Regions from separate parts of the Homo sapiens genome. Here region 2 is linked to region 1. The links come from fine-mapping of genetic effects on gene expression. Tissue or cell type: tibial artery. Region 1 holds a variant in brackets; the other region holds the start of a gene. All regions are shown on one strand. Distances are between the middles of the regions.

Region 1 (10,341 bases):
CTCTACTAAAATACAAAAATTACAGGTGTGGTGGTGCACGCCTGTAATCCCAGCTACTTGGGAGGCTGAGGTGGGAGAATTGCTTGAACATGGGAGGCGGAGGTTGCAGTGAGCCGAGATCATGCCACTGCACTCTGGCCTGGGCAACAGAGGGAGACTCTGTCTCAAAAAAAAAAAGAAGAGAAGATACAGAGAGGAAAATCCCATGTGGAGACTCAGAGAGAGGCACACAGAGAGAAGATGGCCATGTGAAGATGGAGGCAGAGACTGGGGTGACGCACCTACAGCCTAGGGACGCCTAGGATCACTGGCCATCACCAGGAACCAGGAGAGAGCTCTGGAACAGATTCTCCCCCAGAGACCCAAGCCAGAATCAACATTGCCCACACCCTGCACTCAGACTTCTAGCCTCCAGAACTGTGAGACAATCAATGTCCATTGTGCTTTTTTGTTTGCTTGTTTGTTTGTTCGTTTGTTGAGACAGGGTCTCACTCTGTTGCCCAGGCTGGTGTGCAGTAATATAATCACAGCTCACTGCAGCCTTGACCTCCTGGGCTCAAGCCATCCTCCCACCTCAGCCTCTCGTGGGGCTGGGACCATTGGGTGTGTGCCACTATGCCTGGCTAATTTATTTTTATTTTTTATAGAGATAGGGTCTCCCTATGTTGCCTGGGCTGATTGCCAACTCCTGGGCTCAAGCCATCCTCCCGCCTTGGCCTCCCAAAGTGCTGGGATTGCAGGGGGCAGCCACCGCACCCGACCTTCTCATCATAATTTATATGCTCCCTGAGATCTCTCCGCCTTCCATTCCTGCTTAAATTTAAGCTCCTTGTGAGCAGAGACCGGGTCTGGCTTGTCCCCAGAATTGAGGGCCGGATCTGGGACTTTGGAACGGATCTGTGGAATGAACTTTTCATCAATGAAAGCAATGTAAAAAATGAAATGGATTCCCCAGGAGGACCTATGAGTGAAGGGTTCACCAGAGGCCCCAAAGGTGGGCATTCACGCATGGAAGGGCAATTAGACGAAAGCATCTTGAGATGTCGAGGATGACTGTTTATTTACAGTCCAGTTTAAAATGAGGCTGTGTTTCCATCGGGGCTCAGGTCTATCAAAGGGCTTCCTTTACCTGCATAGAGCCCTTTACCTGCATGGAGCTGCATGGAGAGTTCAAAAGCCTTTGGGCAGAGAATTAGCCCTAAGGAATGAGAGAGTCACACTCTCTCAGGTTCTAGAACAATAGGCCAAGGACAGAGAGAAGATTCAACTCTTGAGGCCAGAAAGTGTCTATTTCCCAGGCTATCCTGTGGCCCAGCTCCCAGAGCGAGAAGACTGAATCATAGAGGAAATAAAAACAAGATGACGAACTTGATGCCAGGCGCAGTGGTTCACGCTTGTAATCCCAGCACTTTGGGAGGCCAAGGTGGGTGGATCGCTTGAGTCCAGGAGTTCGAGACCAGCCTGGTCAACACAGGGAGACCCCATCTCTACAAAAAATTTTTTTAAAAATTAGCCATGCATGTGTAATCCCAGCACCTTGGGAGGCCGAGAAGGGTGGATCATGAGGTCAGGAGATCACGACCATCCTGGCTAACATGGTGAAACCCCGTCTCTACTAAAAAAAAATACAAAATAATTAGCTGGGCGTGGTGATGGGCACCTGTAGTCCCAGCTACTCAGGAGGCTGAGGCAGGAGAATGGTGTGAACCCAGGAGACGGAGCTTGCAGTGAGCGGAGATCGAGCCACTGCACTCCAGCCTGGGCAACTGAGCGAGACTCTGTCTCAAAAAAAAAAAAAAAATTAGCCATGCATGGTGGTGCATGTCTGTAGTCCCACCTACTGGGGAGGCTGAGATGGGAGGATCATTTCAGCCTGGGAGGGCAAGGCTGGATGACAGGAGACCCTGTCTTTAAAAAAAGGGCCAGGCACGGTGGCTCACGCCTGCAAATCCCAGCACTTTGGGAGGCCGAGGCGAGTGGATTGCCTGGGGTCAGGAGTTTGAGACCAGCCTGACCAACATAGTGAAACTCTGTCTCTACTAAAAATACAAAAATTAGCTGGGCATGGTGGCAGGTGCCTGTAATCCCAGCTACTCAGGAGGCTGAGGTGGGAGAAGTGCTTGAACCTGGGAGACAGAGGTTGCAGTGAGCCGAGGTTGTGCCACTGCACTCCAGCCTGGGTGACAGAGCAAGACTCTGTCTCAAAAAAAAAAAAAAAAGATATGCTTGAGTAACATCTCTACTGAGGAGTGAGAAGGCTTGGTGGCCTCAGTGGCCCAGGCTGTGATGGCCAGAAGCTCCATCGAGGTCAGGGTAGCCCTGCAGGCTTCCACATCAATGGCACCTAGTGGCTGCCATCACTGCAGGAGCTGGGAGGGCTGCCTTGACTGATGAGGTTGATTGTGCCCTGGTGTGGGCTTGGCCTGCCCAGAACATGCAGTGCCTTTTCCTAACTAGCACAGATAAGCCATCTGGGCCTGGAACCATGGCAGGAGGGCAGGAGGTTGTGGCCAGACTGGAGAACCATGTTCTTACATGGGACACTCCCTAGGGTTGAGGTGGGCTCTACAAGCTGGGAGAAGGGAGCCAGAGAATAGTGTCCAGTTCACAATCTTTGTGGCTGGTTTTTCTTTTTTTTTTTTTTTGAGACGGAGTCTCACTGTATCACCCAGGCTGGAGGGCAGTGACATGATTTCAGCTCACAGCAACCTCTGCCTCCTGGGTTTAAGCAATTCTCATGCCTCAGCCTCCTGAGTAGCTGGGATTACAGGCATGCGCCACCATGCCCAGCTGATTTTTGTAATTATTTTTAGTAGAGACGGGGTTTCACCATTTTGGCCAGGTTGGTCTCAAACTGCTGACCTCGAGTGATCCACCCACCTCACCCTCCCAAAGTGCTGGATTACAGGTGTGAGCCACCGCGCCCGACTGTGGCTGGTTTTTCATACCTGGACTGGTTTTGTCAGAGAAAATAGAATAATGACTGTTCCTAAGACTATTAAATTATCCTTCCTTAACTGTGAGTGTCAGAGGCTCTTCCTGACCCTTCCTGGCCTTGCTCTCAGAACACTTCACACTTCAGTGGCAAGCCAGAAGGGAAGTCCACAGAACTAGAGCTGTGAGTGCATTCTCACTGACTTGAGAGCGGACAGGTTGCTAGTCCCTTCCTGGGCCCACCACAGGAGGAGAACCAGGCTGGGTGGGTGGGTCCCTACCTTCCAGGAGCTCTAGGTCTATTTGGAGGGCAAAGCACAGAGCGTGCTCACGACCAAGGTGGATGGAATGCTTTAAAGCTCAGAGCTCCATGGAGCAGCAGAGCCTTGAAATGTCTTAGCCATCTGCATTGAGCACAGGAAGGTATTTTAGTCAGTGACTAAGTCTTCTTGTTCAGAGAGAGAGGTGTGATCTTGAAGGACACTTTTAGAGAAAAAGCTAACAATCATTGAGTGTCTCTTCTGTGACAGGCATTAAGTCACATGTAGATGTTTCATATAAATTAAGTCACTTAATACTTTTTTTTTTTTGAGATGGAGTCTCGCTTGTAACCCAGGCTGGAGTACAGTGGCATGATCTCAGTTCACTGCAACCTCTGCCTCCCAGATTCAAACAATTCTTCCTGCCTCAGCCTTCCAAGTAGCTAGGATTACAGGCACCTGCCACCATGCCTAGCTAATTTTTGTGTTTTTTTAGTAGAGATGGGGTTTTGCTGTTGGCCAGGCTGGTCTTGAACTCCTGACCTCAGGTGATCCGCCTGCCTCGACCTATCAAAGTGCTGGGATTACAGGTGTGAGCCACCGCGTCCGGCCAAAGTCACTTAATTCTTACAGCAACAATTACAACAGATAATGACACTGATGTCCAAAGAGGCGGCCCACCCTGCTCCACAGCCTAGTGGTTCCAAAGCAGAGGGTCGTGGAGAAATGAAGTAGTTGATCCTATGAGGACAAACACTGGGGATACCTTTCCATTTCTTTCTTCATTGAATTCTCAGGGCTTAACTCAGGGCCCAGAGCATAGTAAGTGCTCAATTAATATCTGTGGGATGAGTGAAAACCAAGGACAACCTGCTAGAATATTGTGGTTTATGTCGTAGGGGCATTTCCATGGGCACGGACCCACTTGATCTTCATACTGACCTTATGAAGAAGAATGAGAGCAAGTATTGTTGCTGCTGTGGCTGTATTGTCGCTGCTGCCGTTGTGTTGTTGTTGTTGTTGTTTTATGGTTGCTGTTATCATTCTCCTTTTGTAGACAAGGGAATTGACAGGCAGCGCAGAGAGTTTAAGTTTCTCCAGGGTGAGACAGTTAAGGCTGCCAGGGCTCCAGTCCAGCTCAAGTCTTCTGATCCCAAATCCCAGGTTTGTCCCAGTGTACTCTGATGGCAAAGTCAGCCAGAACCTACAGCTAATTACCTTGTTCTAATAAGGAAGTTACGGTCTTACTTCAGACGCCGAGATTGGTGCCTCCTGCCTCCTCCTCGCTTTTTCTCTCCACTCAAGGATAGCTCTGTCTTTACCTCGTAGAAGGAGGTGACCACCCCTGACTCCCCAGCAACACCATCTCCCACCATCCTGGCTTCCTTCCAGCTAAGATGGGTGGAGACACTGAGAAAATTCCTGGCCGGAAAATTCATCCTGGAAAATAGCTCAACTCTACCTGGCCTGTCATATGCGGGCAATACCATCTCAGGATGGGGTAGCGAATTAGGTGACACTAGCATGTGGAATGCTCTGTGAATTTCCAAGCCTGTGCAAATGTTAGTTATTATCTTTTTTTCTTTTCTTTTCTTTCTTTTTTTTTTTTTTTTTTTTCTGAGACAGGGTCTCACTCTGTCACCCAGGCTGGAGTGCAGTGGTGCGATCTTAGCTCACTGCAACCTCCACCTCCCGGGTTCAAGTGATTCTCCTGCCTTAGCCTCCTGAGTAGATGGGACTACAGGCTTGTGCCACCATGCCCGGATAACTTTTGTACTTTTTGGTAGAGACGGGGTTTCACCATGTTGGTCAGGCTGGCCCCAAACTCAAGGGTTCTGTCCGCCTTGGCCTTCGAAACTGCTGGGATTACAGGTGTAAATCACCACACCTGGCACAGTTATTATCATCTTTTCAGCATCACCTTCCTGAAATGCCTCTGTGTGGCCTCTAGAGACGTCTGGGGCTTCCAAATTGCCTTCTGAGAAGGAAGGATAATCTAATTACCTCATCCCTTTCCTTCCATGGGAATAATGGGCTGGGGCTCCATGTAAGAGGGGCATGGAGGCTGTGAGGAAGGGAAAGGAATGTTATGTTTTGTAGGAAGAGGACAGAGGAGCAGGGTTTTGTGAAACAAGCATGCAGGCCTAGTCTGCTTCACACTTCACACCTTTGCTCAGAAATAAACTTGGATGAGGCAGACTGATACCCTCAGTGAATTTTTTAGTAGAAAGGGAGGATATCCCATTCAACAATAATTTATTAAGTTCCTGCTGTGTTCTA[T/C]AAAGGTATAATAGAGGTATATTAGCAAGGTACAGTAGTACCTCATTGTGCTTTCGACTTTTTTTTTTTTTTAGATGGAGTCTTGCTCTGTTGCCCAGGCTAGAGTGCAGTGGTACGATCTTGGCTCACTGCAACCTCCGTCTCCCAGGTTCAAGCAATTCTCCTGTCTCAGCCTCCGGAGTAGCAGGGGTTACAGGCACACACCACTGCACCCAGCTAACTTTTGTATTCTTAGTAGATGGGGCTTTCACTGTGTTGGCCAGGCTGGTCTCGAACTCCTAACCTCAGGTGATCTGCCCACCTTGGCCTCCTAAAATGCTGGGATTACAGGCATGAGCCACCACGCTGGGTGCTTTTGGCTTTCTGACAACTTCCTTTCTCCACAATAGGGTCAAACGTTAGGAAAGGGGCCTGGCGTGGTGGCTTATACCTGTAATCCCAGCACTTTAGGAGGTCAAGGTGGGTGGATCACTTGAGGTCAGGAGTTCGAGACCAGCCTGGCCAATATGGTAAAACCTTGTCTTGACTAAAAAGACAAAAATTAGCCACGTGTCGTGGTAGGCACCTGTAATCCAAGCAACTTGGGAGGCTGAGGCAGGAGAATCACTGGAACCTGGAGGCGGAGTTTGCAGTGAGCAGAGATTGCACCACTGCACTCCAGCCTGGGTGACAGAGTAAGACTCTATCTCAAAAAAAAAAAAAAAAAAAAAGGCTAGGCGCGGTGGCTCACACCTGTAATCCCAGCACTTTGGGAGGCCGAGGCGTGCAGATCACCTGAGGTCAGGAGTTCGAGACCAGCCTGGTCAACATGACGAAACCCCGTCTCTACTAAAAATACAAAAATTAGCTGGGCATGGTGGCAAGCACCTATGATCCCAGCTACTTGGGAGGCTGAGGCGGGAGAATCGCTTGAACCTGGAAGGTGGTGGTTGCAGTGAGCCGAGATTGTGCCACTGCACTCCAGCCTGGGCAAGAGAGCGAGACTCCGTCTCAAAAAAAAAAAAAAAAACCAACAAACCAACAAACAAAAAAAAGTAAGAATTAGAAAGGAAACACAAAGTCATTGATTAGTCAGAATTATGCCTCAAGTACACACATAAATCTGTGCATTTACATGTTTACTCTTAGCTGTTCATACTTGATTTGCATATAGTTATAGCAGATCAAGAAGTCACAAACTTGAAAGAGAAAGAGTTGCTGCTGTGGATGGATCCATAAACAATGGTCTAAAATTGGCCTAGGCCGGGCGCAGTGGCTCATGCCTGTAATCCCAGCACTTTGGGAGGCCAAGTTGGGAAGATTGCTTGAGCCCGGGAGTTTGAGACCAGCCTGGGCAACACAGCAAGACCCCATCTCTACAGTATCAGTTTTTAAAAATTAGCCTAAAGTCAAGATAGGAAAGAAGGAAATCTACCAAAAATGGTCATGGGAACTCAAAAAGTCAGCTGTGAGTTAGTGTGGAGGATAAATGGCCTTGTGTAACTCAATCACTTTTGTATTGACATCACTGCATGACCACATGGTACAAAACAAATCATGGAACTGCAGAACATGTGAATTAGATGAACAGTATTGTCAGGCCAACCTCTGCAAGGTGTGTGTGTGTGCCTGTAATCCCAGCTACTTCGGAGGCTGAGACAAGAGAATTGTTTGAACCTGAGAGGCGGAGGTTGCAGTGAGCTGAGATCATGCCACTGTACTCTAGCCTGGGTGATAGAGCAAGACTCTGTCTCAAAAAGAAAAGAAACTTGCTCCAGGTTGCACAGATAGCCAGGCAGTGTGAGCGTGGGAGCCCGGATCTCAAACCTAACTGGTCGGGGCTCTCTCTACCTCTCCACCCAGGACTCAGAACTGAGACCCCAAATTTCCAAGAAAAGGGCAAATTCTGTTCTAAGTATCTTATCTGAGACAGTAGGGGTATGTGTAGTTGCCTTTGGGAAGATTTCCACCAGAAATGATGCTAACAAAGAAAAGATTGGGAGCATAAAAGGGTCCTACATGCACTGTTGCCCATAAATACATATCCCAGGTATCTAGCTGACCCCCAGGATGCCAGCAACAAAGGTTATCCTATGGTAGAAAGAAATGGCCCCTTCCTTCAAGAAGCCCACGCAACCTTGGAGGGTCAGGGCAGGTGACCTGACTCACACCCAGGCAGAGGCCAACCAGGCCATGAGAACCCAAGGGTGGGGCCACAGGGAGGCCTTCTGCCAGGACAGGCTGTGATTCCCTGAAATGTGCCAGGGGAGCGTGCGGAACATCTTGTCAGATATATAAATATCAGGCAGGCTTATTGGGTGTCTATGGCCACATACTTTTAATTCGGCAACCCTGCCCCCGGTGGTGGGCACCCTGCCAGTCTGCATTCCCACATCCTGCCGCCGGCTCCTGGCCCACCCGTTTCTATATTGAGGAGCTCCTCTCCATAAATAAAGCACAGGAGTCAGGCACCAAAGAAAGGCCATTTGGAGCGCCGGGAAGGCTGTCACATGGGCCAACAAAGGGCAGGAAGTGCCGGGTGGTGGCCCCTGTGTCCGTCCCCGGGCCCAGCTCACCTGGCTGGGCTATGGGGCCTTTGTGCAAAAACTATCAGGCCCAAGTCCTGAACTTCCTGCCATTTGTCAGGCTGTGCTGTGACCCGGGGTTCACTGAAATGCTTGCTGCTCCCAACAATGCACACACACATCCTTTGGAAAAATTCTCTCTCTCTCTCCCATCCAGGCAGCAATGGCTTTTTTTGGAAGCGGCTGCAGGGATGCAGGGCTGAGCAGTGGAAAGTTAGGTTGCATTTCCCTCCTGAAGAGGCCCCACTCAGAGAGGGAAAGGAGAGGGCAGAGCCCCAGCAGCAGGGGACTGAAGCTCAGGGCTCTCACCCCAGGAGCTGTGCCGCCATGGTGTGGGGGTGTCTGTGTCTGGGACTCATTTGCTTCCGGCTCCTGTTCACCACTCCAGATGCCCCCTCCCTCCTGGCTCCTCTGAGACTCAAGGGCTTCACTGCCCAAGAGTGGGAAGCAGTGAGTGTCACAAACACCTGCGTGCCTACAGAGTCCAGTTTCCAGGAGCACAAAATCAGGACAAATGGGCTGGGTGGGGTGGCTCACACCTGTAATCACAGCACTTTGGGAGGCTGAGGCAGGTGATCACTTGAGGTCAGCAGTTCAAAACCAGCCTGGCCAACATGGTGAAACCCTGTCTCTACTAAAAATACAAACATTAGCTGGATATAGTGGCGGATGCCTGTAATCCCAGCTACTTGGGAGGCTGCGGAAGGAGAATCGCTTGAACCCAGGAGGCGGAAGTTGCAGTGAGCCAAGATCACTCCATTGTACTCCAGCCAGCCTGGGCAACAGAGTAAGGCTCTGTCTCAAAAAAAAAAAAAAAAAAAAAAAAAAAAAAGACAAATGTTTGAGACAGAGTCTAAGGGGATGGACAGCTGGGTGTGGGGTCATCCGCTGCACTGCCTGGACTAGTCATGTCCCTGGATCCCAGTCCTGATCTGGTGAGAGGACACTCAGGATAGCTTCCCCTGCCAATAACCAAAGCAAGAGATCAAATGACTACTCCACTCACTTGAGCTGTGCTCAGCCCTGGTGAGGGGCTGTCGACAGTGGCTCCCAAATGCTGGGATGGACATTGATAAAGTGGTCACCTGTCCCCTGGGAACTGAAAAAGAAAAGACATGTAATGAATCTTCCATCTTGCTAAATGTATTCCATGGAAAAGACTGTCCTCTTTTTCTGAGATTTTCTGAAACAAAGAAAAAGAAAAATATGTTGAATTTTTCTATACTGCTAAGCTTATTCAGTTTCAAAAGTTGTTTATTCCACTTTTGAAATTGAATAAATAAAGTTGTGTATTCAACTTTTGAAATTGAATAAGCTTAGCAGTATAGCGTTATTTCAAAAGTTTATTCTAGGATTATGTTCTTTCTCCTTTCTTAGTGTTAAAATGTGACTTTGTTTATGACAACACAGTAATTTAAAAAATGTGTTTGTTTGGGCCGGGTGCGGTGGCTCATGCCTGTAATCCCAGCAATTTGGGAGGCCGAGGCGGGCGGGTCACCTGAGGTAGGGAGTTCGAGACCAGCCTGACCAACATGGAGAAACCCCGTCTCTACTAAAAATACAAAATTAGCTGGGGGTGGTGGCACATGCCTGTAATCCCAGCTACTTGGGAGGCTGAGGCAGGAGAATCGCTTGAGCCCAGGAGGCAGAGATTGTGGTGAGCCGAGATCACACCATTGCACTCCAGCCTGGGCAACAAGAGTGAAACTCTGTCTCAAAAAAAAAAAAAAAAAAAAAAGGAAAAAAATGTGTTTGTTTGATAAAATAAAAAGTTGACAACCCTGTGCTAGTCTTCCAAATGAAAAATCGAGAGCCTGTGGTTTGTGAAGTTCCCAAGTGGAGGAGCCAGGGCCATGGGGGACACAGAAGACGTAGGAGACAAGGTTGTTGCCCTCGAGCTTGTGACATGGTTGGTGGGACGCAAAGCCTGTAATGTGGCACATTATAAGACCTCCCGGGTCTGTGCCCAAGTGTGTGGAAGGAGTGACTCATGCTGTTGGAACTAAGAGTCGAGGCTGGTCAGAGGCAGCACCTGCCACATCGGTCCATAGAAAGTGCTCAGTTAAAATTGGCTGAATTGGCCGGCCATGGTGGCTCACATCTATAATCCCAGCACTCTGGGAGGCGAAAGTGGAAGGATCTTTTGAACCCAGCAGTTGGAGACCAGCCTGGGTAATATAGTGAGATTCCAACTCTAAAAAATATAAATATAAAAAAGTTGGGTGAGCATGGTGGCATGTGCCTGTAGTCCCAGCTACTAGGGAGGCTAAGGTGAGGGGATCACTTAAACCTGGGAGGTAGAG
Region 2 (10,341 bases), 250 kb before region 1:
TTTTCATTTTTTTGTTTGTGTGTTTGTTTTTTGGTAAATTTTGCAGGGAATCCAAAGCAGGCAGTTTAAGCATTTAAGGATTTTATCTTGTCTTAGATCTGATCTCATCTGGAATGCTGCTTAGCTAATTCCCTGAATGTTAGCATTTTAAAGACATGATAAGATTTAAAGGGTACTGTCTCACAGTGGGTCAATAAATCAGTGTGTATTAGTTCATTCTCACACTGCTATAAAGAACTACCTGAGACCGGATAATTTATAAATAAAATTGGTTTAATTGACTCACAGTTCTACATGGCTGGGGAGGCCTCAGGAAACTTAAAATCAGGGTGGAAGGTGAAGGAGAAGCAAGCACCTTCTTCACAAGGCAGTAGGAGAGAGAAAGCCAGAAAGGGAACTGCCAAACACTTTTTTTTTTTTTTTTTTTTTTTTGAGACGGAGTCTCGCTCTGTCGCCCAGGCCGGACTGCGGACTGCAGTGGCGCAATCTCGGCTCACTGCAAGCTCCGCTTCCCGGGTTCACGCCATTCTCCTGCCTCAGCCTCCCGAGTAGCTGGGACTACAGGCGCCCGCCACCGCGCCCGGCTAATTTTTTGTATTTTTAGTAGAGACGGGGTTTCACCTTGTTAGCCAGGATGGTCTCGATCTCCTGACCTCATGATCCACCCGCCTCGGCCTCCCAAAGTGCTGGGATTACAGGCGTGAGCCACCGCGCCCGGCCACTGCCAAACACTTTTAAACCATCACATCTCGTAAGAACTCCCTCCCTATCATGAAAACAGCATGGGGGAAACTGCCTCCATGATCCAATCATCTCCCACCAGGCTTCTCCCCCGACACGTGGGGATTACAATTCGAGATGACATTTTGTTGGGAACACAGAGCCAGACCATATCACAGTGTCATTCACTAGACCTGGTGAGAAAAAATTTTGTTGGATCTGCATTTTTATAGTCTCAGCAGTCTTATTCCCATTCTGTTGTTGTTCTGCTTGTTCCTTCTGCTCTAAATTTAAATTCATTTCCCCTGAGAGAAGGAAATGTGTACATTGTGAAATTTTAAAACATCTCTGCCTAAGAGATGTATGGAAGCCAAGAGAAGCGGCAGAAAGGGATGAGTTCAGATCACAGGGCTGGAAGGAAAAGGAGGGTCTGGAGGTGAAAGGGAGAAAGCCTCTGAAGTCTTTTAACATAGTTTCAAATATCCCTTTGTTTACCTCTTGAATGAAGGTGACTTTTTCTTTCAGGATTTCTTTTAGAAGTTTTTAGGTGCCAGTGGAAGTCAGTCTCTTATTTACATGTCTGGTTCTAAAACCAGCTCTTTCCAATGGTGTGCACAAATAAATTACTTTAGGTATATCAAAAGATCCCCATTTTTGGTCATTGTTGCCTATGATCATTCCAGGTTAGATGGGTCTACTTTCCCAGATACTACAAGACAGTACCCCATAAATCATATATGTAGTTCCAGCAGGTATTTCTAAAAAGAGTGTTCAGGTTTTGAACACTCTTATTATTGATTTCTCATAACTCAGGAACTTTTCAAAAGTGACCAAAGCCAGGAATGTGTTTAGGATCAAAGTGTGGCATGTTTTGGACTGTCTCTAATTGTCAGATGGCAGCAGAGTCCTCAAGGATGAGGACAATTGGATTGTCTGTAATTGTCAGATGGCAGCGGAGTCCTCAAGGTATGGGGGACCAGACCCTCGTATTACGTCCACCTGGAAGAGCAAAAGGGGTACACATTTCAGTTAGGAACTAACAGGAATTAGTTAAAATTAAAGACTAATTCAGAATTTTCAAGTGATAGTAAACAACTGCTATCTCAAACACATACGATATAAAATGAAACCACTGGTGCCTAACTGCCAGTTCTTTCACTCAAACCTCTGCTGTGAGACAGAGGTGAAAAAAACTTGACCCAAACCCCTGGTTCTGAGGCAGAGGCAGAAAAACCATGACCTGCACCTCTGCTGTAAGACAGAGAGGGAAAAAAGGCAGTTCCCTGCAGAGCTCTATACCCGAATCTTCTGTCCAAAGACAGAGACCGAAGCCCTCACACTTAAAGAAAGGGTTTGAAAAACAGCCCAAATAAAGTCTAGACCTTCAACCCAAGAGTAGGAGGTCCAAATTCCGGAGAACTCATCTGAAACACCTGATGAGACTTCTGAAGGAAGAGAGTTCACACTGGTACCAAGCGCTGCTTTCAGAGAGAAACACCACCAGCTGGTTGGGGGGAGTCACTGTGAATCCTGCTGACTTACTCCAGATGTTTTACCTAAAAGGAAGAAGCGGAGGCAAAATTAATATAAGTTGGGAGTTTATTTGGGCCAAGCTTGATGACTGCAACCTGGGAACATAGATTCAGGTTGCCTTGAATATACACTCTGAGTAGCAGCAGTTACAAGTGGATTTTTAAAGGGAAAGATGAGGCAGTGCCTGAGTTATTTACCAAGAATTTACATTAAAATAAATCAAGCTACTGATTGGCTATACATTATGAAACTATAGGATGAGGGTTATAATGTCTGGTGCAGCATTAATTAGTAGGTTAATGTTTAGCTTCTGTGGCAATAGTAAGCAGTTTCAAGAGACAAATACACAGTTCAAAAGTGGGGGAGAAGGACAGGATTGCTGTTTCACTTTAATGCCTCTCTGGGCCTCATAATTTAAAAGGATTTGCATTCCTCAGATAAAGTTCTTTTCTTAACATTTAAACAAATTTTCGTCTTGGTATCATAATATAGCTGTCTGTATGTTAACATAGGAATGCTTTAAATTATTTTACCATTTATAAAATTTGTGATGCAGGAAAGCCATGCTATCCTGGGTCTTTACCTTCTGAGTAGCAATTATACCTCAGGGATACACGTTTGTAGTCTGAGAAGTGCTGGCATTTTTTTTTTCCTTTGCAACTCAGAAGTCTCTAATTAAAGTTCTCTTTTAGCATTATTCATTCACTCTTTGATAAATATTTACTGAACATCTTTATTTGCTAGACACATCAACAGGACTGAGGATACAACTGTGAACAAGATATGTATGACTCTTATCTTCATGGGAGCTATCATTTAGAGAGAAAGAAAGGGGAAAAAAGAGAAAATTAAAATATATTGTGATGTGTGCTAAGATAAAGAGGGAAACTTAGAGTGCTAAGAGAAATGTAAAAAATGTTACCTATCCTGTGTTAGCTTGCATAGGAAAAAAAAAATGAAGAAAACTGTCACCTAATCCCAGAGCAGGTGTTGAAGAAAGATTTTCGGCCAGACGCAGTGGCTCATACCTGTAATCCCAGCACTTTGGGAGGCCAGGCCGAGGCAGGAGGATCGCTTGAGCCCAGGAGTTCAAGACCAGCCTGGGCAACAGAGTGAAACCCTGTGTCTACAAAAAAATTTAAAAAGTAGCTTGGTGTGGTGATGTCTGCCTGTGGTCCCACCTACATGGGAGGCTGAGGCAGCATGATCCTTTAAACCCAGGAGGTCAAGGCTGCAGTGAGTCATGTTCATGTGACTGCACTCCATCCTGGGTGACAGAGTCAGAGTGAGATTCTGTCTCAAAAAAAAAAAACCAAAAAAATTTCCAGGACCAAACAGTCTACAGGATGAGCTGGAGTTAGCCAGGTAAAGAATGGGAAAGAATATTCCATGCCTGGCTTAGAGCAAGCTCCGGAGGCTAGAGAGAACAAGGACTCTATGGGAACAAATTCAGTGTGCTAGTTAGTGGGCAGATGTCAAAAGCGCAAAGGAGAAAAGTGGGGGGGGGGTGGTGGTGAGGAAGCTGGAGAGAAAAATCAAGGCAGGTTATGAAGGGCCTCTGTTAAACAGTTTAGAAGGGTATTGAAAGTCACCAAAAGGATTTAAGCTTAAGAAGAACTAATTAACATGTGTTTTTAAAAAAGATTGCTCAGGAACTATGTCTGGAAAAGAACAAGGACTTGACTTACATTAAGGTAAGAAGTGGAATTATAAAATCTGGGGCCCAAAGGAATTGGAGTGAGTTAATTCCTCCCCTTTAAAGTGTCTATTTTCTTCAAAGATAACCACTATATCATCTCTGGGGCTAACATTCTCTGGCCCTTTCCCACTGTCTCTGGCAGCTCCCGACCCAAGTCACTACAGTTACAGCATTCCCTTAAGGAACACATGCTTTTCCAACCTGCTGCAACACAGAAAGCACATGTAATTTTTTATTTTATTGTATTTTATTTGTTTTTCTGAGACAGAATTTCACTCTGTTGCCCAGGCTGGAGTGCAGTGGTGTGATCTTGGCTCACTGCAACCTCTGCCTCCTGGGTTCAAGTGATTCTTGTGCCTCGGCCTCCCAAGTAGCTGAGATTATAGGTGTATGTCACCACACGCAGCTAACTTTTGTATTTTTAGTAGAGACGGGGTTTCACCATGTTGGCCACGCTGGTTTCGAACTCCTGACCTCAGGTGATCCACCCACCTCAGCCTCCCAACGTGCTGGGATTACAGGTGTGAGCCACCGTGCCGGGCCTGGCCTTTCTATCTGGCTTTTTTGATTTGATATCCTAGTAGAGCCCACTATTAAAATTTCCATCTATAGAAACAGGAAGTCAGGAAAGGACTGGAGGGAATTTCGGCAGGTTAATGATTACAACGGGAAGAGAATACAATTATTGAGGTGTTTTGACTCACTTGGTCATTTCCTGAGAAACTCTTTGCTTGAATTTTTCCACTCTTCAGGTGAAGATGATGACACTGTCCAGGCTTTCAGGAGTCCAACCTCTTAGACAATAAGCGACATACTCTTTGGTAACTGCAGTGGCTAAGCCAAGGAATAAATATGCATAACTACAACAAACAGGTACTTGATGAGAACGTTATCTAGAGCTGCCAGATAATTTAGACCAAGTGCACCTTTTGTTGTAAGAAGCTGGTATGATGTCCACATAGTTTTCAGGGCTGCTGTTCCCTCTAAGAAGAAGGAATAGTCTTTTTCCTGAACTACTCTCTCTCTGAACTTTTAGGCTACAATTATGTCAGTTCAAAGTGGGCAGATTTGCCAACTGAAAAAATGATGACACGCAGCTTCCCAACTCTGTAAGGACTTTTCAGGTCTGTGGGTGAACGTCATTCCCGAGCAAACCAATGCCACAAGATTAGTAGGATGCGGCTCACAAGAAATGTTTACAATGAAGGGCATCACAGACTGCAAACCAAACAGGGTAGGAGGACACGGGACCATTTCCTTTTCCTGTCTCCATCTGACTCTGGAAGGCGGGGACAAGACATTTAAAACCAGGACCACTCCAGGAGGACAGCACATTAGCTACTGCCCTCCAGCTCCCTTCAGTGTTGTTTCCGTAAAGGACTTATAAACTGGCGAGGGCGGTGGCTTCCAAAAGCGCACAGGCGTCCCTTTTCCAACTTGGTCTTCTTATTTTCCCTTCCTGCTCCATAACTACAACGTGTTTCTGTTCGTAATCATCTCGGCTTTTCCTTACCTCTGCTTGTAAGAAAAGTCCTTTGCGCCATTCCCCTCCAAGCCCCAGGGAAGGGCCTGGAAAGCGCTTACACCTCAGACCCAGTGTCGGTCAGCCGTCAAGGAGCGAGCGACGTGGGAAACCCTGAGATAGGACATTGGCCCGGCGCTGGGCTCGGGTAACGATGCGGGGCGGGGAGCGCGGGCGGCCGGGGAGGGCGGCGGCCCCTTTAAGAGCAGGCCACGCCCCCTCCCCTCCTCCCGTTCGCTGCCAGCGGTCGGTGGCGGCCGCTACGGTGCTGACAAGATGGCGGCTGGCGGAGCTGTCGCTGCGGCGCCCGAGTGCCGGCTTCTCCCCTACGCGCTACACAAGTGGAGCTCCTTTTCCTCCACCTACCTTCCCGAGTAAGTGCCGGGCCTTGAGCTCGTGCTGCCCCACCCTTCCGCGTCAGCACGGTTGGGCCAGGGGTGCAATGGAGGGCAGCCGAGCCGAGAGGCCCAGGCGGGGCCTGCTGAGGGGGACGTGCGGCCTCCGGAGTCTTAGTTCAGCTGCTGAGAGCGTTGCTCGGCCTCGCTCGGGAAGGGGTTAGGGTCCGGAGAGCGAGCCCAGGGAGAAGGGGCGAGGTGTGTGGCGGATCCGGGGCGCGCACAGGAGAACCGGAAGCCCAGCGGTTCTGCGCTTGGGATTTGGGGGTTGAGGTTGAGGAGGGCTTGGGGGGCGGACGGCTCTGGGGCAGGAATCGGAGTTGGCGGGGCCCTGCCCGCGGGCAAACTACCCCGAATGTCTGAGGTCGTCCGAGGTGGTCGGCGTCGGGGGACAGTTCAGTCGATTGCTGCCGGGACAAAGTGTAAAGCCGAGGAGTGTCTATTCCAGAGTGGGGTCATTAAAAGTGATTAGCTCTAGAGTAGTGTTAAAAGTCACGGAAGGCTGAAAAGTTGTGGAATCCATCTGAATCCTAGCAGGCGGGGAGAACTTGTAGGATTGGCAGACGTTGTCTTTAATGCCTGGAAGTTCTGAAAAAGATAGGGAGTGGGAAGGAGGGACGTTACCGAAGAATTTCAGTATTACGGCTCATTAGAAGATGGGTTTGTATGGACACAGACACGTTTCCCAGTCCGGAAACTCAAACATAGAAACATCTGGCTTTAATGAATTTGATTTTCAACACCGGCTTTGTCTTGATCCCTGATTTAGGTGTTAAAAAAATTCAGTTGCATTGTTAGGTTTTTGTTGGTGGTGTTTTTTTCTCTAGCAAATTCCTTCTGAAATGCTGAAAATACTCTTACATAGTATCTTATTTATCTTTGGCTTATCTTTGAAAGGAGGAGCAGATCTAACTCCAATTTTACATGCTAGTGGAGGAACTGGCTTAGTAAAGGGTTAAGATCTGTGCAGATCCTGAAGAAAAGTGCTAGTTGTCCCTCTAACCATCTCACAGGACCGAAACGATTTTATGAACGAAACAAATTAATGAATAATATATTTTACTGAGTATTTTACTAAACAAAAAAGTGACTAGATCTGTGAAGCATACTCAAGTAAGTTTTCCATCTGTATTTGAGAAATTCTTCACATTTATCCAAATTTGATTTCACTGGTTATATCAATGAAGAATCTCAAAATGGAGCTGCAACTGGAAGAATCTGTCATGACTGCCAGCCTCCCATTTTATTCACCAGGTCAAGGGTTGGCATTCAGTAGGATCTGGCCCAATGAAGGGTGCCAAGTGACCTGTGGTTTGATCTGGCCTGCGTAGCCTATTCATGGCCATATCCCTGATTGATGCTGAAACCCAACTTTGAATTTGAGAGTGAGCCAGATAAACAGTCCAGCCATGTAGTTGGAGTTGAAATGTGGCCCTATGTACTTGACCTCTGATATTCTGGGCTATCTTGTTCTTGGATCTGAAGTTATTCAGCTTTTTTCTATACCCAGGCTAGGATTATGGACAGTTGGGAATTGGTGTGGCATTGTTTGATCTAACTGTAGAGACATTTTTCTGGTCTTGAATTAGCGTATTTCCAGGACGTCACTCCTTAAATTTTTGATGTAGGCCTGAGGCTTGGATAACACAAGTACCATCCGCGTTATCTGTTGTATAGACATTTTAAGAAAGTACATTTCAAGCAGGAAATGATTTAGTGGGATGGCAACTTTAATCTTTTGTGTCTTGTTACTCTGGCCCCTGGTTTGCAGTGGGCAGAACACTAGTTTTGGAGTTAGAAAGCAACAATTTGAGATTGGAGAAATACATTGCTGCAATTTTCTCAAGTACATACATAAAATAGTATTTAATACATACGTAACTTTCATACACTTCCACTTACTATATCTTGTTTAATCCTTATGACATTCTATTGACAAATGCAGTATAATTTGTATTTAAAGTAAAGTATTAGAAGAGTAATCTAAGCTTTTTTCTTTGAAGGAGTATAGTTGAGTATTATGGAGCTGGAGTTGGAGAATATTGTGTCTGCTGGGTTGGTGTGTGCCATGCCTAAATTATAAAACTCTTGGCTCTGAACTTCTATAAGCAAGCAAGGATATTACTTCTCTGTGTGACAGAAGATGTAGGAAAGGGGTTGACTTTACTTACCTTTGCCCTAAAATCCCCTCTAGCAGCAATTGTTGTATCTTTACTGGCAGTGGAAACCATATTAAGGTACTTCTTAAACAGGTCTCATTTTAGGTTAAAGACATTTGTTGAAATTGTCCACAAAGTGGCAAATATTTGTTGGCATAGATCTAAGCATTTCGAGGTGGCAGTAATAAATCAGTAACAAAAATGGTAAACATTTATGATGTGCCGTCCATTTGCTAGGCTCTCTTATGAACATTTTTAAGTGTATCAACTCATTTAATCCTTACCGCAATCCCAAGAGGAATCTCCGTTTGCCAGATGTTGGAAGCAGGTAGGGAGAAGTTTAAACTTGCCTAAGGTCACACAGCTAGATGGAACCAGAATTTGAATCAAGGTAGTCAGGCTCCACAGTCTGTGGTCTTTAACTATAGTGTTTTACTGCTTCTGCACAAAGGTATATATAGTACAGGAAATCAGAACTTTAAAAGAGCTCTTGTATTAAAGGCACTTACATTTTAGTTGTGTAAAGAAATGTGAAGTCATTAAAAAAAATTGAACAATTTTATCTCTATTTTCTTTCTAAGGACTTAGAATTCTTTTCCCCTTCTTCCAGAGGCAGAAAAAACAAATATTTCCCCTTTCAACTCTTTTTAATTTATTTGGACTTTAAAAATGTTAAAGCAGATTCAGTTATAGGGAACACATTTTTACTTTGAGACTAAAAAAAGGCCTTTTATTTTTGTGTGCTTAGAGATTGCCTGTATTTTACTTTTTTTCTGAAATTTACACCTAATTTAATAATTAAATACACTTATTTAAATAATTCATAAAATTACATATACTCTTATACATAAAAATATTTTGTAAACTGCTAATCCCTGTACTCAAATGTTTATTTTTGTATCTAATAATGATGCTAGTTACAATTTAGTGAGCACCTAATATATGCAAGATGCTTTTTGTATACAGTTTTGTTTAATTCTTGGTACATACCTGTAAGATAGGTATTTTATATATGTTTTGTGGAGGATGAAACTGAGGTCCATACAGGGTAAGTAGCTTGCCCAGGGTCATATAGTTTTCCAGAGGCTTGCCAGGTTTTCTGACTTAAAAACTATTGCATTGTGACTTTAATAACAGTCACCACTTATTGAGTACTTTCTATTCTTCAGGCACTGTACTGAGCATTTAGCATGTGTTCTTTGATATAATAGTCTTCACAAAAACCCTATGAGATAAATATTATTATTCTATTTTAGAGCTAGGAAAAGTGAGATTTAGGGAGGTAAGTTAACTTGCCCAGGTCTAAGAGTTGAAAATGTAAGAGGGGCAGGGCAGGGTGGCTCACACCTGTAATCCCTGCACTTTGGGAGGCCAAGGCAGGAGGATCACTTGTGCCCAGGAGTTTGAGACCAGCATGGGCAACACAATGAGACCCCATCTGCAATAATAATAATGATGAGGAGGAAGAAAATGTAGGTGATAAGGTTCTCATATTGGGCCTTTTGACTTCTGTTACGAAAGCTGTTCATTATTATACATGGCTATTGTATATGTCTAATTGAGATTACAGATAAGCGCTCTAAGGTTAGAACAGCAAGAGAGGGAAAAATAGATTTTATCTTGATGTTTAAGATTTTAGTATACTCATATGAGAACTGGGAGAAACTTTGAAAGTATTTTTTACATATTAGGTAATTTCATTGGTATAGAATGATTCTTATCTTGTTTACATATTATTGAATGACTTAGATAATTTAGATGATAAAATCTGATAGATTTTTAAGTGTGTTTACCTTTTTCCTGTTAGTCTTATTACTTAAAATCAAATAGTACTTAAAATAGTACCTTGTGTCAACATGTGATTGATTCATGGTTCAGAGTACAAGTGTTATGATTTGACAACTAGAATAGAAGGTGAATTTATTTCAACTCTTTTCAAAACTAATTTTAAAATTTCACATTTAAAAATGAATATAGGCTAGGCACGGTGGCTCATGCCTGTAATCCTAGCACTTTGGGAGGCTGAGGCAGGACCATCACTTGAGACCAGGAGTTTGAGACCAGCCTGGGAAACATACCCCATCTCTACAAAAGAAAAAAAATATATAAATATTTATATATTTTTATTACATAAAATATATGTGCATAGTTATATATTATTATGTTAAAAATATGTAAATATATATATATTCTTTTCTTCTTTGTCTCTACAAAAGAAAAAGACAGCATCTCGTCAATACCCCATGTCTAAGAAAAAAATAGACACTTTTTATATCATATATATTAAAATATATTTTATATATCTTTTAATAT

Which allele goes with the higher level. Positions count from the first base shown, and alleles are read on the strand shown. Sizes are in standard deviations (SD) of each study's normalised expression.
As copies of T replace C in region 1, the expression in tibial artery of the gene that starts at base 5,727 in region 2 goes down (moderate effect, 0.43 SD a copy in GTEx).

The links. PIP is the estimated chance that this variant, and not a neighbour inherited with it, causes the effect.
Region 2: it holds the start of MKLN1, and the variant in region 1 is fine-mapped to the expression of MKLN1 in tibial artery (GTEx, PIP 0.98).

What each region holds. Positions count from the first base shown.
Region 1 is chr7:131,573,611-131,583,951 of GRCh38, forward strand. No RefSeq gene overlaps it. Among named protein-coding and RNA genes, the nearest start is that of PODXL, 22 kb to the left of the region's middle. RefSeq lists an enhancer at 8,099-8,703. The variant T/C (reference allele first, on the strand shown) is at 5,475.
Region 2 is chr7:131,322,150-131,332,490 of GRCh38, forward strand. MKLN1 (muskelin 1) reads left to right here and starts at 5,727. Exons shown (of 18, transcript NM_013255.5): 1 at 5,727-5,848. The coding sequence starts at 5,751. It overlaps MKLN1-AS (MKLN1 antisense RNA), which reads right to left and starts at 5,630. Exons shown (of 6, transcript NR_125364.1): 1 at 5,466-5,630; 2 at 4,657-4,786; 3 at 2,154-2,276; 4 at 1,216-1,719. RefSeq lists enhancers at 5,492-6,068, 5,763-6,062, 6,069-6,645 and a silencer at 5,553-5,712.